Linked DNA regions of Homo sapiens: region 2 is linked to region 1. Evidence: fine-mapped QTL for protein levels in blood plasma. A gene starts in region 1. The other region holds a variant in brackets. All regions are shown on one strand. Distances are between the middles of the regions.

Evidence for each region. A credible set is the group of variants that fine-mapping cannot tell apart. PIP is the posterior inclusion probability: the model's chance that the variant is causal. The UK Biobank Pharma Proteomics Project read protein levels with antibody pairs (Olink). The fine-mapping took linkage between variants from a reference panel, not from the people measured, so its PIPs are less certain.
Region 2: its variant is the best candidate, but not a certain one, in a credible set for the plasma level of the MUC13 protein (UK Biobank, PIP 0.72). The variant lies in the coding sequence of MUC13. If it changes the protein, the assay may bind it differently, which can mimic a change of level.

The regions. Positions count from the first base shown.
Region 1 is chr3:124,928,985-124,941,188 of GRCh38, forward strand. It overlaps MUC13 (mucin 13, cell surface associated), which reads right to left and starts at 5,767. Exons shown (of 12, transcript NM_033049.4): 1 at 5,677-5,767. The coding sequence starts at 5,728.
Region 2 is chr3:124,900,083-124,916,368 of GRCh38, forward strand. MUC13 (mucin 13, cell surface associated) reads right to left here. Exons shown (of 12, transcript NM_033049.4): 6 at 16,235-16,286; 7 at 13,480-13,599; 8 at 13,029-13,158; 9 at 12,022-12,059; 10 at 10,333-10,417; 11 at 8,065-8,266; 12 at 5,360-6,660. The coding sequence ends at 8,065. It also overlaps a transcript of ITGB5 not described here. Among named protein-coding and RNA genes, the nearest start is that of ITGB5, 21 kb to the left of the region's middle. RefSeq lists an enhancer at 7,688-8,189. The variant T/G (reference allele first, on the strand shown) is at 8,095.

The sequences.
Region 1 (12,204 bases):
TTTATTCTAGTAGTGTTTTCCCATTCACAATTCTAGATACATTGACTAAGAGTAAGATGAATAAGTGATCTTTGCCCTCTGAGCTATGATGGATATCAAAGTCGCATTTTCACAACTTTTAGGAACCCCTGGACACATGGAGTAGTAAACTCTAGGGATCCAGTGATCCATTTTCTTCCCCCACTCTTTTATTTTATTTTTTTTTTTTAGAGACATGGTCTTGTTCTGTCACACATGCTGGAGTGCAGTGGTGCCATAATAGCTCACTGCAGCGCTGAAACTCCTGGGCTCAAGTGATCCTCCCACCTTGGCCGCCCAAGTGTTAGGATAACAGGTGTAAGCCACCTTGCCTGGCCCAGTGATAAGTTTTCTAGAACTTTTCCTTGTCTCTAAGAACTCTGACCTTGACAATAGGTTAAAAAAATTATTGAAAGAAAAAGGTTTAGTGAGGAAGCAATTTCTAAACCTTAGGGTGCAGAGAACTGCAGAATATGCTTCCTGATTCCCCGATGGGTCTATGAGCCCCTTGAGGGCAGAGCCTGATTCTTCACCTTGAAGAGGGCTTGGCTAACATAGCCATTCAGAAGTGTTGAAGAGATCAGCAATTGCTCTTCCTAGGTAAGAAATACATCAGCAACTGGCAATGTTGACTGCCAGTCTTCCTATTCCTGCCACTCAGGATAGTTCTCATCTATCAAGCACTGGCCCTGTGCCCGACTGTACCTGTGAAGTAGACATAAGTGCCCACATTTGACAGAAGAGCCCACCAATACTCAGAAGGGTTAAGGAATTTGCCCAGAGGCAAAGCCAGGTCTGTGAGATGACAATGTCCTAACTATCACTTGATTAAAGTTATGGGGAAGGCCATCCATTTAATGAAAAAGCCAAGACCCCCGAGGAACAAACACAAGAAAAGCAAATAGAGAAAATTGGGGATCAGAATGAAAGCGGTGGAAATAGAAGTGACCTCCACGGTGCCCTCTATCATCGGAGTAGCAGTGAGAGTGGCCAGGGGCTGGCTCTCGCTGTGGAAAACTCTGGACAGAAGAAAAGGACTTGGCAGACTGTGGGTGCAAACAACCCCAACCCCACCAGACCCTGAATTTCATGCTTTGGGAATATTCATTCTCGGCCGATGCCAAAGAACCAACATGTTTCTGTAGATGTGCATAAAACAAATTGGGACTTCTTGAGAGGTTTTTGCAGGTCTTTGGAATTATGACAAGGAGTTTTGGACTTGGTGGCTTGTTTATTTTGGTTTTAAATTTCTGTTCACTAGGGAGAATACATTTCAGAATGCTCAATTAGTTTTAATAAATGAGACACATTCCAAGCTGACAGCAATTCATTGCTGTGAATAGCTACGATTTTTTTTTAAACTAAAATACACTTGTGTGTGTCTATGTGTATATATGTGTTTTATCTGAGGGTTGTATAGATTTCAGGGAAGACAGCTTAGAGCTGATATCCCAGGCTTAAATTATCTAGTAAAAATACCCAAGAGGAACTGTAAAATAACCTATTTTGTTCAATCTATAGATAACAGAAATATATGAAGACATCTGTGCAGTAGAAATAACTTTAGTCTTTTTATTTCCTTAGGTCCTAAAGCTTCTAAATAACACAAGGATAGCACAACGTCCACAGAGGTACAAATCATAGGTTTCAATGGGAAAATATATGCCCTGACCTGGTTTCTTTCTGGGGAACACTCCATAATCACCACCCCTGTCCAGGGCACACCTATAACTGCTTTATTCAAAGCTAGCTGAAAGTCACAATCAAACGCCTTTCTCCCAGATCTGAATTCTTCATTATGATGAGATGTTGGTTCCCAAAGGCACTCATCAGATTCTGTGGAATAATGCAGTCCTAGTCTCTCAGAGAAAGCAAAAACAACCTGGGAAGTTTTGCCTGTTAAAGGCTCTTCAAATGTCACTGGCACATTTTTCATTTGTTTCAGTAAATGCTTGTGCGGGGGTTCTTGCAGTCAAGGTGCTATACAAGGCATAGGGGTGAGGAGGAACGTAAAGGTGTACAAGACACACTTCCTGCCCTTGGTTGCTCAGAATCTGAGATGGAACTCATGTTTGAAGTAGTGATTCCTTACACACACCTCCAAAATCCTTAACGTTACATTAAAAAGCAACTTTTTAAAAATTTTCAGGCCAGGAGCGGTGGCTCATGTCTGTAATCCCGGCACTTCGGGAGGCTGAGGTGGGTGGATCATGAGATCAAGAGATTGTGACCATCCTGGCCAACATGATGAAACCCTGTCTCTACTAAAAATACAAAAATTATCTGGGCATGGTGGCACACGCCTGTAGTCCCAACTACTTGGGAGGCTGAGACAGGAGAATTGGTTGAACCCAGGAGGCAGAGGTTGCAGCGAGCCAAGATCGTGACAACTGCACTCCAGCCTGGCAACAGAGCGAGACTCTGTCTCAAAAAAAAAAAAAAGCAACTTTTTAAAAATTTTCAGGCCAGGCGCGGTGGCTCATGCCTGTAATCCCAGCAGTTTGGGAGGCCGAGGCGGGCAGATCACCTGAGGTCAGGAGTTTGGGATCAGCCTGGCCAACATGATGAAACGCCATCTCTACCAAAAATGCAAAAATTAGCTGGGCGTGGTGGCAGGCACCTATAATCCCAGCCACTCGGGAAACTGAGGCAGGAGAATCACTTGAACCTGGGAGGCAGAGGTTGCAGTGAGCTGAGATAGTGCCATTGCACTCCAGCCTGGGCGACAAGAGCAAAACTCCATCTCAAAAAGTAATATAAGGCCAGGCGCGGTGGCTCACGCCTGTAATCCCAGAACTTTGGGAGGCCAAGGCGGGCGGATCATGAGGTCAGGAGTTCGAGAACAGCCTGGCCAATGTAGTGAAACCCCGTCTCTACTAAAAATACAAAAAAATTAGCCAGGTGTGGTAGTGAGCACCTGTAATCCCAGCTACTTGGGAAGCTGAGGCAGGAGAATTGCTTGAACCTGGCAGGCGGAGGTTGCAGTGAGCCAAGATGGCGCCATTGCACTCCAGCCTGGGCAACAAGAACAAAACTCTGTCTCAAAATAAATAAATAAATAATAAAATAAATATTTTTTTCAAAAGCAAACCTTAGTAGCCACAAAACTGTCAGTATTAATATATCTGGAGGTAGATGGGTGGGAAGTCAGATTGGATGCTCAATTTTTATTTCATATACATCTGTATTGTTTGGATTTGTTACAGTGGGTCTGCATTACTTGTATAACTTTTTTAAACAAAGAAGAGGAAATCAAAACCAAAGTTTGAAAATCAGATCCAGGCTGGGCGTGGTGGCTCACGCCTGTAATCCCAGCACTTTGGGAGGCCAAGGCAGGTGGATCTCCTGAGGTCAAGAGTCTGAGACCAGCCTAGCCAACATGGTGAAACCCCATCTCTACTAAAAATACAAAAATTAGCCAGGTGTGGTGGCAGGTGCCTGTAATCCCAGCTAGTCTGGAGGCTGAGGCAGGAGAATCGCTTGAACCTGGGAGGCGGAGGTTGCAGTAAGCAGAGATCGTGCCATTGCACTCCAGCCTGGGCGACAAGAGTGAAACTCGGTCTCAAAAAAAAAAAAAGAAAGAAAGAAAAGAAAATCAGATCCAAGTGCAGACATGACAAAAAGGGAAATCATTTATTAAGCCCCTATGTGCCAGGCAGTATCCCGGCACATCAGGCTCTTTGTCTCATTTAATCCTCTCAGTCACTCTTCAGTATAGGGATTTCCCCTCTATTGCTACACAGGAAGACACTGAGGGTCAGAGACACCCCACAGCTAATAAGTGGTGGCATGCCATCTGAATCCCTGCTTGCCCTACTTTTGCCCTTCCCCCTGGGTTCTCTGGGTCAAGAAACATCTCCATTCCCCTAAGGTCCCTTGAGCCTCAATGATTCCTGATTCCCTTAACTCTCTATTCATCTCCTTGTCCCCTCCCAGCCAACTTTCCCCTTTCTACCGCCCTTCTATTCTATTTTTAAAAAGTCAAGCCTTTTTTAACAGTGGCTCCTGAAAGTCATACAAGCCTCACCAATTCTTCCTTTGTCCTGAAGGCTTGGACCTAGCATCTGCCCCCAAGGTTGGCAGGAGAGATCTGGTGAGCCCTCCCCTCCTGTGCAGCTAGCCTTCTCCAACCTTCCAGCATTAAGAGCTTGAAACCAGCTCTCAAAAAACTCTAATCCTGATGCCATTCATTCCAGTTCTCTGAAAGGGCTTAATTTCTCTTCATACATCTGCCTTATCAAATACTTTCTTCCTTTCTGCAAGCAGCTTCTAGATTTCAACTCATTGAACCTGAAGGAAATAAAAATATTTCACCCCCAAATATAGCTCCATGATATAATGAGTATTTTAAATTAAAAACTCTTAGAGGTCAACAAGCGCTGTAAGGACTGATCCACCAAAGAAGAACTATTGCTCCTGTTCCCCTCCCTGTTATGTCATTATCCACTACAGGAAAGAAGACCGAGAAGGAAACCACCCCTGAGCTGACCCTTCATCAAGATAAGGACTGTCTCCAAGGATCTTTAAATTCCAAGGAGAATTATCTACAAGTTCATTTTTGTTCCCAGATCCAATTATTCTCCCTAATAATCATTTATTGCCCCTCAACAGAATTCCTCTTCTCCCTTCTTCCATAACTTGTTTTACCAAGATCCAAGCCCCCTTTCTTTCTGTAACCTCAAGATGGTGTATAAGCTTCTATACCTCATCAGGAAGTTGGGTGTTCATGCTGAAGGTTCCTGGGTACACACATTAAATACAGTTGTATGCCTTTTTTCCTATTAGTCCATCTACTTCATGCCAGTGATTTTTCTGCAAAATTTTAGGAAGCCAATTGGCCTCCACAACCCTCACCTCTCAACATACTGCTGACCTCACCCACATGTGGCCCATAGAACCCTTCCTAACTCAGAACAGAGAGTACATGTCTGAAGTCTAATCAACGTGACAATTACTCCCTATGGTTTAGCATTCTCAAATTCAAGTACATTTGTGAAAGGAGGCTTTTTGCTGTGGTCAGCTCTCTGATTATCATGAGAGGGGATCCAGAACGCTATAGTAGAGAACTGGGTCCTTGCAACCTACTTAGTCCTTCTTATCTGGCCTCAGGAACTCTCAAAGAGAAACCTCTGGTTTGCTGAGCCCCCAGATCTCACTCCATAGACCACTTCTTCCCCCCACCCCTACAAGATGGAGTCTCGCTCTGTCACTCCGTGTCATCTCAGCTCACTGCAACCTCCACTTCCCGAGTTCAAGCGATTCTTTCTGCCTCAGCCTCCTGAGTAGCTGAGACTACAGGTGCCCACCGCCACACCTGGCTAATTTTTTTGTATTTTTAGTAGAGATGGAGTTTCACCATGTTGGCCAGGGTGGTTTCAAACTCCTGACCTCAAGTGATCCATCTGCCTCGGCCTCCCATATTGCTGAGATTACAGGCGTGAGCCACCGCGCCCAGCCCACAGACCACTTTTGCTATTGCTCTATCTTCCCCATCACAGGATAAAATGTCTGTGTCTTTGAGCTGAGCTGGAGAGGAAACTTCATTTATAAAATAGACCATGTGCTGGGCTGGGAGAATTGGTAGCTATAGGCCTGCTGATTCTACCTCAAAGACAACATACATGATTGGAAGAATTAAAATGTAAAAATATTCCTTACCTGTGTTTACAGAAAGGAGAGCAAGAAGAGTAAGATGAATGATGGCTTTCATTTTAGCTGTTCTTGCTTGGTAATCTGAGGAGGAAATGATTTCCCTTCCTGGCTACCTTTCGTTTTAACTGTCTTTCGGGTACAAAGTCCAGTCATTAATTGACGTCAAACCACAGAAAGGCAATTATAGCTAGCATTTGGCCAAATACCATAGATCTCTTCCGAGCTTTTGAGATAGAAGAGGTGGAGCTGGCCTTACGAATCATTTTTCTGACTCAAAGCCCAAAATAAGTCAGGACATTCCAAATATCCTTGTGAGGTTGGTGGCACATGAGTTTGGTTAATCTCTTGATATCTCAAATGTCTCCAAGCCGCCATCTTTTAGGAGGTCACCATTCCATTAAACATTCAATAACAAACTGTGCTCTACTCACCCACATATGAGTGCAGGAAACCACTTTCCTCCAGCTGTAGTTCTGAGAATCCCTGAAGAGGACTTACATGTTTCCCAAAATTATTAGTTGCTTAACTTTTGTCACTGTATGCTGGGGACTACCATTCCGGGCCTCTCTGATGGTCATGTCTAGCAACTTTGTAATCACATCTCCAAGCTTCTGTGACTCTACCTGGATACAGCCCCCAATAAAGTTCCCAAGCACAATGGACATCACATCATGGCATTTAACCTAACTTTACTGAAGTCTTGTGGGTGACTGGTGTGTTGGGGAGTTGGCAATAAAGTACAGAAAAGAGAAAACTTAGAACAGCTGATTTGATCTCTCTGCTCCTGGCCACTCATTGGGCAGGCCCCACTTCTCAGTTCCCTTTCTCACCCTCTCTCTAGTTCCTCAGCCCCTCACCTCTCACCATGTGTCAGGAACCAGCTTTACTGCTTGGATTTGGGTCTTCTTAATCTAATTTTCCCTCCTTAAAGTCCAGGGCCCCAACTCTACTGTGTCTAGCCCCAGCCAGAGGAATATAAACTAATGATACCTTGTGAGTTGTGGCTAGAGTTTTGAGTTTAAGTTTTTTTTTTTTTTTTTTTTTTTTTTTGAGACAGAGTCTCACTCTGTCGCCCAGGCTGAAGTGCAGTGGCACGATCTCAGCTCACTGCAACCTCTGCCTCCAGGGCTCAAGTGATCCTCCTGCCTCAGTCACCCAAGTAGCTGGGATTACAGGCATACACCACAATGCTTGGCTGATTTTTGTATTTTCAGAAGAGATGGGGTTTTGTCATGTTGTCCAGGCTGGTCTCAAACTCTTAGACTCAAGCAATCCCCAACCACAGCCTCCCAAAGTGCTGTGATTACAAGCGTGTGCCACCATACCTGGCCTTTGGGTTTAAATTTTAACCCTGACCTTGATGAAAACAAAACATTTTTGTATGATCGCCCAGCAGATAAGCTGCTTATTGTCCTAGAGTCTCCATTCAAGAATAAGACAGGGGTTTGTTCTTACATGGCTGAGAGGTCCATTTAAACACTTTTTCCAAAGCAAAGACACTTCTAAGGCCCATTATGTTATGCTATTATTCTCAGCTTGAATAACTCCTGGCATCAGGATTTAAACAAAGGCTTGTTTTTCTTTTCTTTTTAAACTAGCTTTATTGAGCTATAATTTATGTCAATAAACTGTATCTATTTACAGTGTACAGTTCAACGAATTTTGATTGATGTATATACATGTGTAGCTACCGTTGCAACCAAGATACCGAGCATTCCCAACACACCCTTTGGGACTTTCCTCTTGTCCCTTTTTAGTGCTACATCCCCTATACTCCACCCCAACCCCAGGTAACCATTGATCTGCTTTCTGTCTCTATAAATTAGTCTGCATTTTCTAGCATTTTATGTAAATGGAATCATACAGATGTAGTTTTTTGTTTTGTTTTGTTTTTTGAGCCAGTTTCTTTCACTTATAACCATTTTGAGACTCATCCTTGCTGTGTGAATTCATAGTTTGTTTCTTCTTATATCTGAACACTATTCCACTGTATCAATGTACCATGGCGTGTTTGGTAATTCATCTGTCGATGGACATTTGAGTTGTTTCTAGTTTTGACTATTACAAACAAAAAGATTATAAATAAGGCCAGGTGTGGTGGTTCATACCTGTAATCCCAGCACTTTGGGAAGCTGAGGCAGGTGGATCACCTGAGATCAGGAGCTGGAGATCAGCCTGGCCAATGTGGCGAAACCTCATCTGTACTAAAAATACAAAAATTAGCCAGGCATGGTGGCAGGCACCTGTAACCCCAGCTACTCAGGAGGTTGAGGCAGGAGAATCCCTTGAACCCCGGAAGTATTATTTGCAGTGAGCCAAGATCACGTCACTGCACTCCAGCCTGGGCAACAGAGCGGGACTTCATCTCGAGAAAAAAAAAAAAGTTATAAGTATTCATGTACAAGTTTTTGTATGAACATACACTTTCATTTCTTTAGGGTAAATATTTAGAATGGAATGGCTGCATCACATGGTAGCTATATAACTTTTTAATAAATGGTCAAATGGTTTTCCTAAGTTGTTATGCCATTTTACATCAGCAATATATGAGAATTCCAGTTGTTCCCTATCCTTGCCAACACTTGGTATTGTCCGTCTTTATATTAGCTACCCTAAAGGGTATGTAGTGGCATCTCACTTTTGTTTTAATTTGCATCTCCTGATGACAAATGATGTTGAACATCATTTTATGTGCATATTAGTCACTCGTGTCTCTTCTTTTGTAAAGTACCTGTTCAAATAATTTGCACATTGTATCGTTGAATTGGTTTTCTTCTTGGTTTTTAATGGTAAAAGTTCTTTACATATGTATTGCAAATCTTTTCTCCTTTTCTGTCATTTTTATATGGCATTTTAAACTTACTATATTCACTTTATAAAAGCCTAACCAGGAATCTAGAAAAATTGAAAAAGTGGCCTGGGGTCACATAAGTAGCTGCAGGATCTCAAATGCAGGGTCTCAAATCCTGTCTCCTAAACTGGGAGAAGCCTATCACACCCCATCATGTCTTAGATTCAAGATATCAAGTGAGTAGCGCCCACAGTGCTCTATCACTAATGTCTACTGATGCCACCATATTACAACAGTGTCAATATTTCCATGGTTTTCTATATTACTTATCTGCTGAGCATAGAATGAAAAGTATAACCAGGAAGGCATGGAGTACTGCCAAGCATCTGGCTCCCTGACTCTTCCCTGGCCTTATCATCTGGAAAAATATGGGCAGCCAGAAAGTCAGGCAGTCCTCAAAGTATAAATCAGCAATCACCGGTATGCCCGCTCCTAAAGCATCCACACAGGACTTCAGTACTGCAGGATGACAGAGACAATACACAGAGCTTTCATGAGGGAAACTTCTTCTTCCTCAGGGCTGATGTTTCCTCACTAATGGAGGGAGTTTAATTCCTGAAACACTCCTGGCCTCTTGGCATGTCTTTATTCATTTTGCCCTAAAGGAAGAGTAGTGACTTATTTCAGAATAAACTGGGAATACTCACCTCAGATCCTGCAGTTTCCATTTGGGGAGATAACCTGGATTCAGGATTGTTGTGCCCAAGAAGGTAAGGATCCAGAAGGAGGGAGCCCTAAGCCACATTCTCAAAAATAAGCTTCTATAAAAGTAATATTTTGTCTCCATCTGTTGTACTCTGTGTTTTACTTCTCACAGAACTCAAAACCTGGATAGGAAAAAGGGTTGATATTTATTAGTATGAAATGGCTAAATTCTAAGTATTTATCTATAAGTCAAGAACACAGACTCCATTTTCCCACAGAAACAATGTTATATGTTGGTAACGTTGTCACCAAGTCAGCTAAAAAAAAAAAGCTGTTTACCCATAATTACCTGGTTGCAAAAGAACTATTGTTCAGGGTGAGCTTTTCAATAATTCTATTGACTATGCAGAGGAATGGGACATGCCCATTAATCTAAAGCAATATCCAGTTATTTAGGCATAAACTCAAGAGAGCTATATCAGAGCCATTTAGAATTAGAATTTGATCCATCAAGAGCCTCTCTAGCCAGGTGAGGTGGCTCACATCTGTAATCCCAGCACTTTGGGAGGCCAAAGTGGGAGGGTTGCTTGAGCCCAGGAGTTTGAGACCAGCCTAAGCAATATAGTGAGACCTTGTCTCTACAAAACAATTTTAAAATAATTATCTTAACATGGTAATGCATGCCTGTAGTACCAGATACTTGGGAGGCTGAGGCAGGAGGATCCCTTGAACCCTGGAGGCGGAGGTTGCAGTGATCCGAGATTGCACTGCTGCACCACGGCATGGGCGAGAGAGCGAGACCCTGTCTCAAACAAAAGAGCTCCTCTTTGGCTACTTTGATTCTGCAACACTGCAGTACCATGATAAGGCTCTAGAGGATCATTAAAACATAAAATTCTATCAAGATTAAATAGTTAGACCCAAAGATTATTTTCTGTCTATAGAACCAAATGTAAATACATGTTAAGCTCCTATCTCCTTCTCACTAATTCCAGCCCCTCAATAGAGGTGTGAGTATAGCCTTCCCAGAGTCACTACTACCATTTACGGATATCACATTTAGATACTACATGAAGCTGATCAGCATTTTCCTCTCTAATTCAGAAGACCATTCCCAGAGAAATGACTTGTGGAATGCAATATTCCCAACTCAAATGTCTAATTGATGACACATTGACAGAACCATTTCCACTCTTGCTTTTTATACCCTCTGAAATTAACTTTTCAGTGAATGGTTGCTTTACATGAGTAATGTTCAGGAGGGGGCTGTTCAGTCACTCCCAGGTACTCGAGGCATCTCTGCACATCCATCAGGTATCGAAGATGAAGCAGTGAACAAGATGATGAAGGTCTCTGCTCTCCTGAAGCTTCTGTGAGATCATGGGTAGTGGAGGTCGGCAAAAAAAGTAATTAAATACAATGATTTTAGAGAGTGGTCAATGCTCTGAAGAAAATAAAACACAACAATGGGATAGTGACTTGTGGGGTATGAGGTGCTACTTTAAATAGGATGGTCAGCAAAACCTTCTTGCAGGAGCTGATATCGGAACTGAGAGCTGCTATTGAAGGGAAGCCTGCCATATAAACATCAGAAAAAGGGCATTCCAGCTAGAAAAGTAGTAAGTGCAAAGGCCTGAGGCCAGAACAAGTCTGGTGTGTTTGAAGAGCACCATGATTTAGGAGGAGACTGGGGGGAGATGTTGTCAGAGAGGCAGGCTGGGGCCTGATCCTACAGGATCTTAGAGGCTGTGGAAAGGAATGTGGATTTTATTCTAAGCACAATGGCAGAAGCCATGGGAACATTTAAGCAGGAGAACGACAGGCCAGATCTTCCTTGGGGGCCTTATCTAAAGGAGCTGGTCTACTCGCCTGACCATCCCACCTCAGTTCGTTTCCTCCATAGCCCTCATCACAATATGTAATTACTTTGTCTCTTTGCTGGTTTAGCTACCTGTTGCCTAACTTCCATGAGAGTTTCTCTTCCCTGTCCACTCCTCTGTCTCCAGCATCCAGAACAGCTGGCACATGGCAGGTGCTCAGTAAAGATTTATGGAAGAAAGGAAGGAATGAATGAAGGCCGTCCGATTTGTTCTAGGTGCAGGGAACAGGGAATGCAAAGAAATAAGACACAGTTTGGGGTCTTCAGACCCACAGTGCATTCAGACAATTTATCTTCCAAAAGTTGGTTGTCATGATCAAATTATTCAAAAGAGAAAATATTATTAGTAAGTAAATATGTGGGGGAAGAATATTTAGCTTTTTACTCATCTTTTTTTGTTTGTTTGTTTGTTTTGAGAGGGAGTCTCGCTTTGTCACCCAGGCTGGAGTGCAGTGGCGCAATCTCGGCTCACTGCAAGCTCCGCCTCCTGGGTTCATGCCATTCTCCTGCCTCAGCCTCTCGAGTAGCTGGGATTACAGGCGCCCGCCACCACACCTGGCTAATTTTTTTATTTTTATTTTTTAGTAGAGATGGGGTTTCACCGTGTTAGCCAGGATGGTCTCAATGTCCTGACCTCGTGATCCACCCGCCTCGGCCTCCCAAAGCGCTGGGATCATAGGTGTGAGCCACTGTGCCCGGCCTTTACTCATCTTAAAGATGTTACAACTAAAACAAAAGTGAGATTATATTTTACCTCTTTTTTTTTATTTTAATTTTTTTTTTTTTGAGATGGAGTCTCACTGTGCCACCCAGGCTAGTGTGCAGTGGCATGATCTCTGCTCACTGCAACCTCCACCTACCAGGTTCAAGCAATTCTCCTGCCTCAGCCTACTGAGTAGCTGGGATTACAGGTGCACACCACCCCACCTGGCTAATTTTTGTATTTTTAGTAGAGATGGGTTTCACCAAATTGGCCAGGTTGGTCTCGAACTCCTGACCTCTAGTGACCCACCTGCCTCGGCCTCCCAAAGTGCTGGGATTACAGGTGTGAGCCACCACACTGGTGTAATATTTTACATCTTTTAAAAATGTGTACAATGATATATCCAACTCTGGTGGGGGTGCAAATAATTCAATATGCTTTACAATTGCTACGTTG
Region 2 (16,286 bases), 27 kb before region 1:
CCTGGTAAATACAGGACACTCTCAGCTTCAAATATATGTCACATTGTTCCTACTGACTATTGAAATATATTACCTCTGTTAATACTTTAACATTAAATGACAGAGAGGTAGGCAATGGAGTCGGACTGCCTGGCTCAAATCCTGGCTGTGTCACTTCCTAGATATGTGACTGCAGACTAGTTACTTGCCTCTATTTCCCCTACTATTGAACAGGCATGAAAACAGTACCTACTTCATAATTATCGTGAGAATTAAAGGGGTTAATATGTGTGAGGCACAAGAATTGTGCCTGGCATATAGGGAGTGCTTCATAATATATGAAATATTATTGTTGTTGTTGATTTTCAAACTGGCTCTCTCACCTGGAAGTAGCAGAGAATTTCCTTATTGGCCCACATGTCGTGATTGTGGGCTCAGGAAAAATGTTACCAGGCCTGCAGAAATTATGAGGCCTTTGATGGTTTGCCCCAGGCTTCTGTCTTTGAATAAAAGCACCACATTTCATAGCCCTGAGACTGAGAAGAACACCCCCATATGTTTTCCAGGGCTCTCCCCAACCTAATCTCCAACCTTGCTTTTTGCACTGTGGATTGTCAATTAATGGCAAACTGGAGTTCTCGGAGAACCCTCAGGGAAAACCCAGACAGATCTTGCTCACCTCACCTCCCACGGGTGGCATTTTGTTTTTTATTTAACTGAAGAATTTTTCAATGAAAATGGATTTATCTCCTTTTTAATTTTGTACAATCACCGCTAAATAAAACATTGATTTCTCTGAACAATTGTACCAAACTTTATGCACCATTAATATGACATTAACATTGCTTATGGTTATGTATTATAAGAGCAATAAAGAGGACAATATATGATCTCTAATGATTCAGTAAAAATGATGCAAATATCTCAACAAGAGCAAACAGCGTAACATTCATTTCTCCCTAGCACAAGAACAAGGAATAAAGAGACCAACCAAGGAAAAGTCCAAGGAGAAATTTAGAAATGGTGCATTAAAAGTTAATGGTTTTAAGGTCAGGTGCGGTGGCTCACACCTGTAATCCCAGCACTTTGCGAGGCCAAAGCGGTAGGATGACTTGAGGTCAGGGGTTCAAGACCAGCTTGGCCAACATGGTGAAACCCTGTCTCTACTAAAAATACAAAATTAGTCGGGCATGGTGGTGCTCACCTGTAATCCCAGCTATTCGGGAGGCTGAGGCAGGAGAATCGCTTGATCCCAGGAGGCAGAGGTTGTAGTGAGTCGAGATCTCGCCACTGCACTCCAGCCTGGGCGACAGGGTGAGACTCTGTCTCGATAAAAAGAAATAATAAAATGAAAGTTAATGATTTCAAAAAAGCCTTTTAAAAGCTCCGCCCCGCCGGAAGTTGAGTTTTCTGCAAGCCATAGGAGACAGCGCCACCTACCGGCCCCGAGATTTGCCCAGCCGCAGAAAGGGGCGGAAGGCCAGGGTAGGTTTGGGGGCAAAATGGCACAAAAGAGTTCAGCCTCAAACGGTTTTGGTGTTGATGCAATCTGGATGCCTGGTCACCTTCTCCATAGAGAGACTTGGAGCTTACTGGGGCTTCTTGTCCACAATGTGACTCTTGGCTTCTAGACTCTTGGAGGAAGGAATGGGAAATGATGTGATGTGACCTCGAGTTGGACCATTAGCCAACGCAGTGACCTGAAACAGTGGTTCTCAAACTCCACCGCACATTAGAAGCACCTGGGAGCGCAGGGCGTGGCGGGTGGCTCCTGGAATCCCAGCTACTCAGGAGGCTGAGCGGGGAAAATGGCTTGAGGCCGGAGTTAGAGCCTGCCATGAGCCATGATCGTGCCACTGCACTCCAGCCTGGGTGACAGAGGGAGACTCTGTCAAAAACAAAAACAAAACAAAACAAAACAAAAAAACGTGCAGGTGAGAGTTTAAATACTCCTGAGACTCAGGTCTGCCCTAGACTGATGTGCTCTGGAATGGGACCCAGGCATCAGTAACTTTTATACCTCCTCAGGGGATCCCAATGTGAAGCTAAGACCTGCCGCTGTCAGGGCAGCGGGCCATTCCTGTTGTTTCACCCAAAGCCAACCTCAGAGGACCTTCGGTCTAATGCGACAAGCCAGCAGTGTGACATGTGCGTTTTCTCGTCCTGTCTTAGGGCTGTGCCTAGAAGGTGCCGCCCTCAAGGTTGGAGACAGCTCTGCATAATAGTTCACTCCCCACTTAAAAAATAAAAATAAAAAAACCCAGCTTTGTGAAGGTATAATTGACATACACCAAAGTGTACATTTATAAAGTGTACAATTGGACAATGTTTGACATGTGTATACTTGTGAAACCAGTGCCACAATCAAGATAATGATCATATTCTTCAAGGTTGAGCTGCAAGAGTCCTGTTTTACACTCCCATTTCACAATTATTTAATACTTGTTCTATGCCAGGCATTGTGCTGGGTTAGAAGGAACCATGGATACAACCACTTCTCTGGGGGAACTGGTTACAGGACCAGTTGGGACATGAAGGAGGCAACTCTACTTGAGAGTACTGGGGTAGCCAGAGGAGAAAATGGTTTAGTTGATCTAGACAGATGGAGGTATTTATCAGGTGCTGTGGTCTAAATGTTTAGGTACCCTCAAGATTCATGTATTAAATCCTAAAGCCTGATATGATGCTATTAGGAGGTGGGACCTTTGGGAAGTTATTAGTTAATGAGGGTGGAGCCCTCATGGATGGGATTAATGTCCTTATAAAAGAGACCCCAGGCCAGGCGCAGTGGCTCACACCTGTAATCCCAGCACTTTGGGAGGCTGAGGCGGGTGGATCACAAGGTCAGGAGATAGAGACCATCCTGGCTAACATGGTGAAACCTCGTCTCTACTAAATATACAAAAAATTAGCCGGGCGTGATGGCTGCAGTAGTAGTCCCAGCTACTTGGGAGGCTGAGGCAGGAGAATTGCTTGAACCCAAGAGGCAGAGGTTGCAGTAAGCCAAGATCGCACCACTGTATTCCAGCCTGGGTGACAGAGCAAGACTCCATCAAAAAAACAAAACAAACAAAAAAAAAAACCCAGAGAGATCTCTTGCTCCTTCCAACATGCGAGGTTACAGTGAAAAGATGGCCATCTATGAGGAACTGGGTCCTCACCAGACACCAAATTGGCTGACACCTTGATCTTGGACTTCCCAGCCTCCAGAACTGTGAGAAATAACTTATGTTGTTTGTAAGCCACTCAGTCTGTGGTAGTTTGTAATACAGCTCAAACAGATTAAGACATTAGGTAGTTGAAGGAAACGGGCATTCCAAAATGGGAAAGCATGAGCATGAGGAAAAGCAAGAGGGAAAGCATGAGCAAAGGAATGGAGGCATGAAGAGATGATATGTTGGCTGGGCACGATGGCTCATGTCTGTAATCTCAGCACTTTGGGAGGCCAAGGCAGGTGGATTGCTTGAGCTCATGAATTCGAGACCAGCCTGGTGACATGGCAAAACCTCGTCTCTACAAAAACACAGAAATTAGCCAGGTGTGGTGGCAAGTGCCTGTAGTCCCAGCTACTCAGGAGGCTGAGGTGGGAGGATGGTTTAAGCCTGGGAGGCAGTTTGCAATGAGCCAAGATCACACCACTGCACTCCAGGCTGGGCAACAGAGCCAGACCTTGTCTCAAAAAAATAAAATAAAATAATAATAATAATAATAAATTAAAGAGGTGGTATGTTTAGGAAACAGCAGGTATGGCCAAAGTGGTAGTGCATCGTGGGGAGGGTCATGAGGCAAAGCCAGCACAATCAGCGGCAGTAACTGGATGTCTAGGAGTGCCATGCCACCAGGAGTCTGACTTTATTCTATGAGCTCTATTTCTCAGTGGATGACCCCTGAAAGCTTAAGCAAGGGAGTGTCACAATCAGATATGCATCGTAGAAAGTTCACTCTGACAGCCCTCCAAAGTGGCAGAACAATTAGTAAGAGAACCTTTGCAAAGTTACCAGCAAGCAGAAACAAATGAATTATAGGTCATATTGCACAATAATCAAAAAGAACTTTTTGAATCCAAATGCAAAAGCCATTTTCATAAACATTATACATATATATCTTTAGGAGATTATTTTTAGTCAAACAATAGCAATGCAAGTCTTTGAAGAATGGCCCAGGAAGCCCAGAATTAGTATGGCTCAGGACCTTTGAGAAGTGACAGGAGTTGGCATGCTCTGGTCCAAAGGGGGATCAGGAAGGGGGAAAGGCCTCTTTAGAAATAGCCTTCTACTAGTACTGAATCCAGAATCATATTTAAATACAAAGGGGGTAATATGCAGGTCAGAAATAGAGTCTGTGATGACAAAATACAGTGGCCAGCCAATTTTAAGTTCTGCCTGCAATAACTCTGCTGCTGTTAACTGATTGGTTTATGGCTAATGTCTTCAGTGTGGGCATTAATAGCTCATAAGAGTATGTTTCTTATATGTGATTCACCATTTAGCCATGAGAATACAAGAATAAACATAAGTGGTATCAGTGAGGATTTTTTGACTGCAAATAACAGGAAAAAACTACTCAAACTGGCCTTGTAGCAGAGGAAATTCCAGAGGCTTCAGGTATGGTTTGATCAAGGTGCCAGGTCCATTTCTCTCTGGTTCTCTCAGTTCTTCTCCTCTGTGTGTGTCAGCTTTGTCCCCAGCAAAACAGAAGCAGTTCAAGACTTCACACCCTCAAGCCCACTTTCCAGAAGAAGAAAGTTTCTCTTTCTCCAAACTTCCTACCAAAGTTTAGGCTTTATTCTAATTGTATCCACTTATGCCACACGTTCACTTTTAGGACGATTACTGTGGCAAGGAGGCATGGGATTTCGCTGATTGGCTTGAGCCAACCAGAGCCAACCTCTGTAGCTGGGAGCAGGATCAGCCCCACCCAAAATGCTCATCATCATGGGGTAGGAGTGGGATGTGCGTGGAGGAAGCAAATGTCTACTATGCAGTAGAACGTTATCTTGGGTAATCCAATAACCCCTAATAAGGATAGCAGATATCAGTCACTCCCATTTACCATGTGTCACGTTTGCTATTTAAAATGAGACTAACTGCTGTGTGCATCATCAAAACCCCCAAACTCAGCCTGGGCAACATAGTGAGACCCTGTCTCTAACAACAACAAAAAAAAATTAGCTGGGCATGACAGCACACTTCTGTAGCCCCACCTACTCAGGAGGCTTATATGGGAGGATTGTTTGAACCCAGGAGTTTGAGGCTACAGTGAGTCATGTTCACACTACTGCACTCCAGCCTGGGTGACAGAGCAAGACAGTGTCTCAAAAAAAAAAAAAAAAAAAAGAAAGAAAGAAAAAGAAATGAAAAAAAAGCCCCAGACACAAGGACACCATCTAACAAAGGCACTTTATTGCATTACCATTCACAATTAACAGTCAAGAACAAATAATAATAACAAATAAAATAACTTTTAAGAGGACAAGGCATTAGAAATAAAAAAGGACACTAATAACATTTGTAAAAGCTTGTACTGGATGTGGTTGCCCCCATTTGTGTGTGTGGTTGTGTGTGTGTGGTTGTGTGTTGGTGGCCACAGCTGAGCCTCTGTCACCAGAGAAGGCTGAGGCCCCAATGGCACACCTCAGAAACCTACACCCCGAGGCTGGACGGCTGGACTCCTGAGCACAAGCTCCCTCTCGCACCCTTTGCCAGACAGTTTGTCTCCAATTTCAAACTGACCTAAGGCTCTTACTCCTGGATTTTTTGTTTTTAAACCTTCTCCCAGCCAGTCTTCGGGAGGGCATGATTAGAGAAGTGCTCCTTTGCTGATGGAGGAGGGGACCTAAGGAAGAAGGTGGATCCCAGGTGCCTCCTCTCTAATTGATCCTCCCCACCCAGTTTCCTTTGCCTCTCTTCCTTCTACCAGGTCATGTTTTTTACTCTCTGCCCCTTCTGCCTCCTAGCATTTCAAAAACTGTAGAGTGCACCCCATAGTGGACATTTTTAGTCCAGGCCTTCTAATTAGCATCAAAAAGTTCCTGGATTCCCAGGCACGCCTCCTGAAAAAGCTGAGAGATATGTCTCTTTCCAGTCTTCTTGGGTGAGGCTAGGTTGCAAGCTCTGGGCTGTTCAAAGGTTGCCAGAATCTCTCCATTGGAGGGATAGAAGCAGTGTCCCTATTCTGACTTGTCAGAGAGTGAGCTTGTGACCCTTGAAAGATGGTGGGTATCCCTTCTCATCCCCTCGGACCTCCACAGTTGATGCGTATGTCTCCCAGGGGAATTAGGTCACTTAACTCAAGAGCAATGTTTGCCCAGGAGCAAGCAATGCTGGGGAGCTTTCCTCTAGATTGGAAATGGTTCTTGTTGCCCTACCAGGAAAAGAATTAAGAAAACAACCCTAACCATTGTCTCAGTACTTTGTACTGATTGAAGAAAACCACCTCTCTGACAAGCGCTAATAGCATCTACTACATTTAATGTCATAGATTCTTATTTAGCAAGTGAGCTGGATTCGTTGCAAACATTCACAACTTCCATTCAGAGAGGCTGGCAGATGTCAGATGGAAGAAAAACCCCGGAGGCCAGATCTTTACTGGTGCTCACTTCTCCATCAGTCTTTCTAAACACTCTAAATAATAGCTTGTACATTGGTTGGGGGCCATGGCGGGTTCCACATTCTTATGATTCTAGACAGAAAGAGAGAGGGAGAGACAATACTCTTAGAAAATACTCCAACAGAAACATATGAGATCGTTTAGATCTGTAAATTATTAACATTACTTTCATTAACATTATTTGTCTTCTTCAGCTTTATCCCATATTCTCCCTATCATTTCTCTCACGTCTCTTCCATTCCCCATCTCTTTCCCAGCTCCCTTTCTCCTCTTCCTTTACCATCTTCCTTCTTTCCATCTGTCTCCTGTCACTCTTCCTCCTAAAGTCTCTTACAGGCTTCCTTCTTTCAACATTTCATTCAATCACACTAAGCAGTGACAGCTATGATTATCCAATACAAACCCAGTGGGTACAAGCTGTTGTCCTTGAAAGTTCTCCCTAGAGAAATACAGTATCACCAGCCTAACTAGCTTTATCTCCTTTTTTAAAAAGCTATCTTTTATTATTATTATTTTTTGTAAAAATGGGGTCTCATTATTTGCCCAGGCTGGTCTCGAACTCTTGGGCTCAAGCAATTCTCCTGCTTCAGGCTCCCAAAGTGCTAGGAGTATGGGATGAGCCAACAAGCTAAGTTCCATTTCATCTCTTTAGAAGTGGACTGATGCCCAGTTCAGTGGCTCATGCCTGTAATCCCAGCACTTTGGAAGGACGAGGCGAGAGGATCACTTGAGCTTAGGAATTTGAGACCAGCCTGGGCAACATGGCAGAAACCCCTGTCTCTACAAAAAATACCAAAATTAGCCAGGCATAGCGGCATGTGCCTGTAGTCCCAGCTACTTGGGAGGCTGAGGTAGGAGGATCACTTAAGCCCAGGAGGTTGAGGCTACAGTGAGCCAAGATCGTACCACTGGACTCAAGTCTGGGTGACAGAGTGAGACCCTGTCTCAAAACAACAACAACAACAAATAGAACTTATATATATATATAGAGAGAGAGAGAGAGAGAGAGAGTTGCCTTGAGATCAAGCGGCAGGGAAAGAGAGCGTTGCCTTTACACAGCCTGGTGAAAAGGATCCCACAGAACTATGTTTACATCCAGTGTCCTTCCCTGGTCCTGGCTGAGGACCTAGGTCTTCAAACAGCCTGAGAAGTGTCATCATCATAATCTCTGGAGTCGTATTCATGGAGTTGGTAATCTAAAGGGACCTTAGGGGTATCTAAATTAAGCTGACCTTTTTACAGATGAGAAAATCAAAGGCCAGGGAAATTAAGTGATGTGTCTGTAGTCACATAGATGCTCAGAGTTACGACAGCAGGGAACTTCCTTTTTGATCTCTCTCTCTCTCTCTCTTTCAATTAAGAAAAAGAAAAAGAAAGCCTGCGGGGCAGCCAAGGATTGAAGATTCAGCAACCAGGTCTCTGCTCTGCCCTGGTGCATTCACTCCCAAAAGCAGGAGAAAAAGCCCACTGACTCACCTAATAGTCAGGGCGGGGCATGCTGCTGTG[T/G]CTTGAATAGGGATTTTGCATCTGGCTGTCTCTGGAGGCCGTTATCCTGACCTTAGGAAAGACGCTCCCTTCTGCTCCAAGATTGGTGAAGCCTGTCGACCGCAGTTTTAGATTTTGAAAGTCTTCGTCAATCAAGTTCTCTTCTTCAATATGCTTCGTTTTGTTATTTGATCTGTAATCAGTAAGAGGAATTAGGATTTGACAATGGCAGAAAGTTTCTTGAAGTAAATGTTAATGTTCTTTTTAAAAATATTTTTAAATTCTGAAATAATCTCACATTTATTTGTAAGTTACAAAATACATATATTACGGCGTTCTCACACACTTATCACCCAGATTCCCTAATTATTAACATTTCTGAACCAATTAAGAATAAGTTGCATAACCAAAGAACACTAACAGTTTTATGAAAGAATAAGTTGCAGACTTGATGCCCCACAAATAATGAAATAAAGCACTTCATTATTTTATTCAGTGTAGGTTTCCTAAGTTTAAGGTCATGAGCTCTGTGTAGCGACAAAACCTGGACTTCAATGCTGATCCAACATAACAATCTAATTCCACTGGCCTCATTCATATTTTGCTCATAATATTAGAAAATAATTTGAGATACAGCATTTCATTCAGCAAAGTCAACATCTAAGAATCACGTTGGTGGGTAAAATGAGTAAAACAAGTTCAAAGACTTGAAACGAGGCTGGGCTTGGTGGCTCACCTCTGTAATCCCAGCACTCTGGGAGGCCGTGGTGGGCAGATCACTTGAGGCCAGGAGTTCGAGACCAGCCTGGCTAACATGGTGAAACCTCGTCTCCACTAAAAATACAAAAATTAACCAGGCACAGTGGCATGTGCCTCTAGTCCCAGCTACTCGGGAGGCCGAGGCGGGAGAATCGCTTGAACCTGGGAGGTGGAGGTTGCAGCGAGCCAAGATCATGCCACTGCACTCCAGCCTGGGCGACAGACCAAGACTCTGTCTCAAAAAAAAAAAGAGAAAAAACAAGAACAAAATATTGTAGGAACCTAAAATCTGTTTATCCTGTCACATTATAGTGGAAAACTACCTATTTTGCCAAAATATAAGATATGAACTAAATGTTAGAAAACAGTAGCTTTAAAAAATCAAAGTGGATCCCCACTTGGCACATTGAGAATGGGAAAAAGATCACAGCATTTGCCTCCCTGTTAATGGGGGGACTTTAGTCTATCTAAATATTTGTTGAATGAATGAACTCTAGTGCCCCTTCCTTAAGAGAAGAGACCTTAAGGCACCAAGCTAATAGCCATGCAGAGATGACACGTGTGTGCTTGCGTGTGTGTGTGTGTGTGTGTGTGTGTGTGTGTATGTGAGACAGGGTCTTGCTCTGTCACCCAGGCTGGAGTGCAGTGGGGTAATCTTGGCTCACTGCAACCTCTGCCTCCCAGTTCAAGGAATTCTCCTGCCTCAGCCTCCTGAGTAGCAGGATTACAGGGGTGCCACCACCATGCCCGGCTAACGTGATAAACTTTCTTAAAAAAAGTTAAAAAAAAACAACAACCCAGGGGGTTCAGTTGAGGTTGATTTTAGACCATTTGCAGCAGAGTCCTGGACAGGGAAGTGACCTGATGAAAATTGTATTTGACAACTTCAGTGGAGTTAAATATTATTACATTAACAAAGAGTTTTTAATGACATAAGGAAATGGTTGCTATGTCATCTTACGGTGTTAAACCAAAAAAAACCTCAATCCAAAATTTTAAAAACACAAAAGACACAAAATTATGTATATAATATTATTTTAAAAGATAGAAATAAATCTGGAAGGTTATATCTCAAAATGTTAGTTGCCTCAGCATGGTGGGTTTTGTGAGTGATTTTTAAATTCCGCCCCTTTACCCACTTCTCTATTTTCTTGATTTTCTTCCATGGTCCTGCTATTGCCTATATAATAAGAAGACAATTAAGGTAAGGAAAAAAAGTCAGTGGTACTAGAAAGGCCTCTCCTTATCTCCCTTCTCTTGCCCAGGAGAGGATGAGTATGTTTGGAAACTAGAGAGTGTCATGCTGGTGGTCCTGTGCCGCAGGAAAAGGCCACTTCTGGCAGGTGTGATGGCTCATGCCTGTAATCCCAGCACTTTGGGAGGCCAAGGTGGGAGGATGGCTTGAGTTCAGGAGTTCGAGACCAACATGGGCAACATAGTGAGACCCCCCCATCTCTCTATAAAAAAAAAAAATTTAAAAAGGACACTTTCATCCCATACCTTGCTGTGACAATCAATGCAATTATCATGCTGAGAATGACAATGCCAGCGATGGTGCCCACAATAGTGAGGATCAGCTGAAATTCTGAAAGGAAGAAGAAAATAAGAACAGTCTCCAACAAGCTGGCCCCCAACTGTCTACTGCACAGGTTCGTGTATTCCCAGGGACTCCTAGCTGTGAAGACGATCAGGTTCTGGTCTCCAACCCTCCAGGCCAGGTTGGGTAGTTGGCCTATTTCCTTTAGCATTCCCTCCTCACACCTCCTAAACTGTGTCTTCAGAACTCAATTGGAAAGGGCAGCCCTGCCAGACAAAACACTGTAAATACAAAGGATGGTGGCAGGGTCTTCCTGGACTTTGTGGGGAGTGGAGTATCAGCTGAGGGCCACACCTCCCTCCTTACCTCTGCTGCCTTTGCCTGCCCTCCATACCTCACCTTACTGATAAGCTAAGGAAACTAGGTTGGAGTTAAATGTCACTGCTAGAGGAGCCAGCTAATGGCTTGATAATAACATCAATGAGGGAAGAGTCTAGACGTTCATTATCACCCATTCTCCTCTCCTAACTCTGCCCTGGTTGGCACTATTGACACTTGACTGCGGCTATGAGACACAATGTAACAGACACACCAGATTGCAAACACTTCATGTGAAAAAAATGTGAGAGAATTGGTTTATCTTTTTTTATTGATTCCATGTTGAAATGATATTTTGGATATATAGATTAAATAAAATATGTTCTTAAAATCAACCTCATCTGTTTCTTTTTACTTCTAACAATTTACTTGAAATTTCTAAAATTTCAAATGAAATGTGTAGCTCACATAATATTTCTATTGCACAACACTGCTCTAGACCTCTTCGTCTCTTTCTGCTATATGGCTTCCCCAAATGCTGCCTTTAATGTGAATTCATGGGGCCACAGACTGGCAAATCTGGGAAAGACCTCAAAGTTTGTCTGGTCCAAACTTCTCATTTTATAGATGTGGAAATTGAAAGCCCTGAAGAAAGACTTAGCAAATTATTCCTTGCAATAAAATACAGTAGAAATGGAGAATGTCACTCATCACTATCTTCATGGCTGGCAGGAAGGCTGACAGTAATATTTCCTTCATCTTGGAAGACTGATCTTTAGTTCATTATGTAAATTTTAGAATATAAAATAATTGAAAATTTAAAGTTAGTATTGTCTTAATCTGGTGGGGGTGGGGCATGGGAGGGTACAGAATTTGAATTTGCAGCAAAATATCCCAAACCAGTAAATAGCTCTGAGACAAAAGGATTTGAGTATTTAAATGTCTGGTTTCTAGGTCTGCTCTTCTATAACCACCAGAATTTTTGGAATTACTGGTCTTTTATCTCTAGTAGCAGCAGATAATGCATATGTAAGCTAATGCAGGAAATCAACATAATGCTAAGATGCCCTTCTCTGGTCTCAAGCAAGTCCAGAGGTGCCAGCCCACTCCTGGTGCTGAGTTCTGTTATTTTCTATGGCAGAGGGGCTGCTGTTCATAACCTAAGGGTGGGCATGGCATGGCAGGACCCAGAAGGCAAACTGGAGGCAGATGGTCTCTCTCTTTATGAAAGAGGACAGAGACTTTGAAGGACTGGGCAGGATGTTGAATGGGGTCACTATTGATTTCTCAGATGTTTAATAACTTGTTTATAATAGCAAGACTTTCATACTCACTGTCCTTACAGTCGAGTCCACTGTAGCCAAATGCACACCTGAAATACAGTGAGCAATAGGAAACAGTGTTAAAGAGCCCCTGTGGGGAGCATGTCAGAGTTCCCACCCCAATCTCCACCTCTTCCTTTCCATCTTCCTTTTATTCTGTCCTCCCTTGCTTTTTTTCCTCTTTCTTTTGCCTTCCTTACACTCTCATTCTTCCAGGAGACCACCTTCCATGGGGTTCTGGAAGGGTGAGGGGGGTACGCAATCTCATGCAGGCTCATTTGCTACTGACTGAACACTCCATCCTCCGGGCTTCAGGAAGATTCTGCAGTTCAGGCAAAGCTGAACCCAAGAGGCATGGAGGGTAGTGGGACCATCTCAGGCTGTGACGCCACATGGCTCTGCCACTTATTTGTTGCCCTGTGAGCTGGAGGATGTTATTTACAATCAGTTTCAGTTTCCTCACCTGAAAATGGAAATTAAGACATTCCTGACAATGTTGCTGTGTGATAGGTATTACCTAGTGTGTTTCCTGGAGCATAGAGAATGCTCAAAAACTATTGATGATGCTGGGCATGGTGGCTCACGCCTGTAATCCCAGCACTTTGGGAGGCCGAAGCAGGTGGATCATGAGGTCAGGAGTTCAAGACCAGCCTGGCCAAGATGATGAAACCCCGTCTCCACTAAAAATACAAAAATTAGCTGGACAGGGTGGCAGGCACCTGTAATCCCAGCTACTCGGGAGGCTGAGGCAGGAGAATCACTTGAACCTGGGGGGTGGAGGTTGCAGTGAGCCGAGATTGCACCATTGCACTGTAGCCTGGGGGACAGAGTGAGACTCCATCTCAAAAAAAAAAAAAAAAAAAAAAACTATTGATGATGACAATGATGAGGATGCTGTCTCTACCAACCTATGACAGCTTACCAGCTTCCTGACTCAACACCTATATACGTGTTGTAAGGTCTCTCTACTTTGCCTAGCTCCAGCTGTGGCAAGACAAAAACAAAGTTATTTTTCTTACTTTTGGCAGTTCCCATTAGCATCTTCCTGGTAGCCGGGCACGCACGCACACTCAGGGGCCCCACCACTCTTCTTTATTAAGCATTGCTTGTGCTGTGCGTTGCAGGCATCAGGACACTTGAGACTGGAAGCTTCAAAACAGAATGATTTCTGGGTAATTTTCAGAAACAATCTCTTTAACCCCAAAGTCACATGTGACAACATGACAGTGTCTTTCACATTGCTTTTTCTAGGTAAAATGAGATGCTTATTGACTCCACACATGATGTGCCCCCTGTGAAGCTGGACATGGGCTAGCAAAGGTCCCAGCCATGGTCCATATGTCTAAAGTCAGAAGTCAGATCACTCGGACTCTGAAATGCATGTGGAAACTAAAGGAGTGAATTTTTTATGTTGCAAAAGAAGAGAAAGTGATGTTATGAAGAACATTTAGAAGCAGGTGAAACACTTACCAACGCAGAAAGGGCTCTGTGGGTTAGGCCTTTGCAGGTCAGATTTGCAATCGCATGCTAAACCATTGAGGCAGTCATCCGCAGTCTGGTTACAGCCATAATAATCACACCGAAGGGTCACTGAGAAGCACAAATAGTTTAAAAATATATTCAGCATGACAATATGGATAAGGTAATTTGTGAAAATTACCCCACCCCATTGCTGTTATACTTTGCCTTTTAATAAGTTTTGGGGCCAAGTGCAGTGGCTCACAACTGTAATCCCAGCACTTTAGAAGGCCAAGGCAGGAGTATCGTTTGAGCCTAGGAGTTCAAGACCAGCCTGGGCAACACAGTGAAAATATTTAAAAGTTAGCTGGGCATGGTGGCAAGCTCCTGTAGTCCCAGCTACTCAGGAGACTGGAGTGGGAGGATCACTTGAGCCCAGAAGTTCAAGGTTACAGTGAGCCATGATCATGCCACTGCACTCCAACTTGAGCGAGAGTGAGACCTTGTCTCAAAATATAAATAAAAATAAATAAAGAAATAAAAATGGGTTGGAAGGCATTAGGGTTAAAAGATGAGTCTGGGCTGGGTGTGGTGGCTCACGTCTGTAATCTCAGCACTTTGGGAGGCCGAGGCTGGTGGATCACGAGGTCAGAAGTTTGAGACCAGCCTGACCAACATGGTGAAACCCCATCTCTGCTAAAAATACAAAAATTCGCTGGGTGTGGTGGCATGTGCCTGTAATATCAGCTACTCAGGAGGCTGAGGCAGGGGAATTGCTTGAACCTAGGAGGCGGAGGTTGCAGTGAGCCGAGATCGTGCCATTGCACTCCAGCTCTGGGTGACAGAGCAAGAATCCGTCTCGGGGAGAAAAAAAAAAATGATGAGTCTGAGAATGGAGTGGGGGAGAGAATAGGAGTAGGTAGAGTCATATGGCTCCTCTCTACTAAACATCCCAAACTGTAACTGAGCCTCCTTCATCACCTGCCACATGAAAATGCCTCTGATTAAAAGCCTAGAGCAAGAGATTCTACAATTTTGGGCAAAGAAAACAATTTATCTTTGCCACTGAAGCCGGAGAACAGGAAAGTGTTTTCCGGCCAGGTATGGTGGCTCACACCTGTAATCCCAGCACCTTGGGAGGCCAAGGCGGGCAGATCACCTGAGGTCAGGAGTTCGAGACCAGCCCAGCCAAAATGGCGAAAACCGTCTCTACTAAAAATACAAAAATTAGCTGGGCGTGGTGGCACATGCCTATAATCCCAGCTACTCGAGAGGCTGAGGCAGGAGAATCGCTTGAACCCGGGAGTTGGAGGTTGTGGTGAGCCAAGATCATCCCACTGCACTCCAGCCTGGGCAACAGTGTGAGACCCTGACAAACAAATGAACAAACAAAAAAGCAAACACTTAAGAGATGAAGAAAGGAGTCTTAGAAGGAGCAAAAAGAAGGATGAGGGAGGCACGAAGGCGATTAGGAGAATGGTGGATGCGGGCCCAGGAAGAAGGGAACATCTAGAAGGGAAGGATACTAGTGTCAAATGCTATAGAAAAGTCAAATAAGTTGTGGCTCAACAGAGGATTCTGGATTTGGCAACCAGGACTGAGAACCAGCTGCAAACACCTCTTCCCGGGACTGGCCCCAGTGGGTCACCTCTGGGGTGAGGAACTTCTGATGACTGTTATGGTGGGTTGACTGCAGTCATGACATCAATTTACTCACACCTTTCTGTACCCCTTGGGCAGGGCCCTTCCACACTGTGCTTGGTAATGCGAATTGCTTTAGCCAATTGGACAGTTGTAACTGTGATGTAAGCAGAGACTTGAGAAATATTTGTGCATTGAATCTTACCCTCTTGCTGCTCTTGAAATCCTTTGGATGGGTCTGCTGATAAGAGACCATGTGGAGCAGAGACAAACCATTTATACCCAGCAGCTAATGGCAGATGCTTAAGTGAGCCCAGCAGAGATCAATTAAGCCTGGCCCAGATCAGCACACTATCCACTTGAGCCCAGCTCAAATTCAGACCCATAGAATTCTAGGGTTGCAGTAAATAAATGATGGTTGTTTTTGGCCACTACCTTCGTAACACAGCAAACGCAAATTGCTACAGCTACATGGTGGGTTCGTGTGTGTCTAAAGGGGAAAATAGTACGGGTAATGCTTGGTCTTGCTCTATTGCTCAGGCTGGAGTGTGGTGTCGTGATCTCAGCTCACTGCAGCCTCAACCTCCTGGGCTTATGCAATCCTCCCACCTCAGCCTCCCAAGTAGCTGAGACCACAGACCTGCACCACCACACCTGGCTAATTTTTTGTAGAGATGGGATTTTGCCATGTTGCCCAGGCTGGTCTCAAACTCCTGGGCTCAAGGAATCCGCCCATCTCAGCCTTCCAAAGTGTTGGGATTACAGGCATGAGCCACCACACCCAGCCACAGGTAAAATTTTCTGTAATCATTTGGAAATCTTTAACCTGACATAAAGCCCTGTTGTTTCTCCTTTTTCTTTCCCTGCCCAGCAGTGGTTTGTCTGGTCATTTATACCTTCGTAGAGAGGAACACACTGGTCAGTTTGATGACTTGGGACATGGTTGGAAAGAAGCAGAGGGCAAGCGAACAAGAAAAGGGAAGAAGAATTGGATAAAAAGAAATTTAGAGACAGTTGTCAGTTCAATGATGCAGTTCTTGTCTCCTTTTCACATATAATGAAAAGGTTTACAAAAAAGGTAGGTAGGTCTTCAGGTGAACTTTGAATAAAATTATACAATACTTACAATCATAGTTTAGAAAGTTGCTTGAGCTACTTCTAATTGCTTTATTAATTTT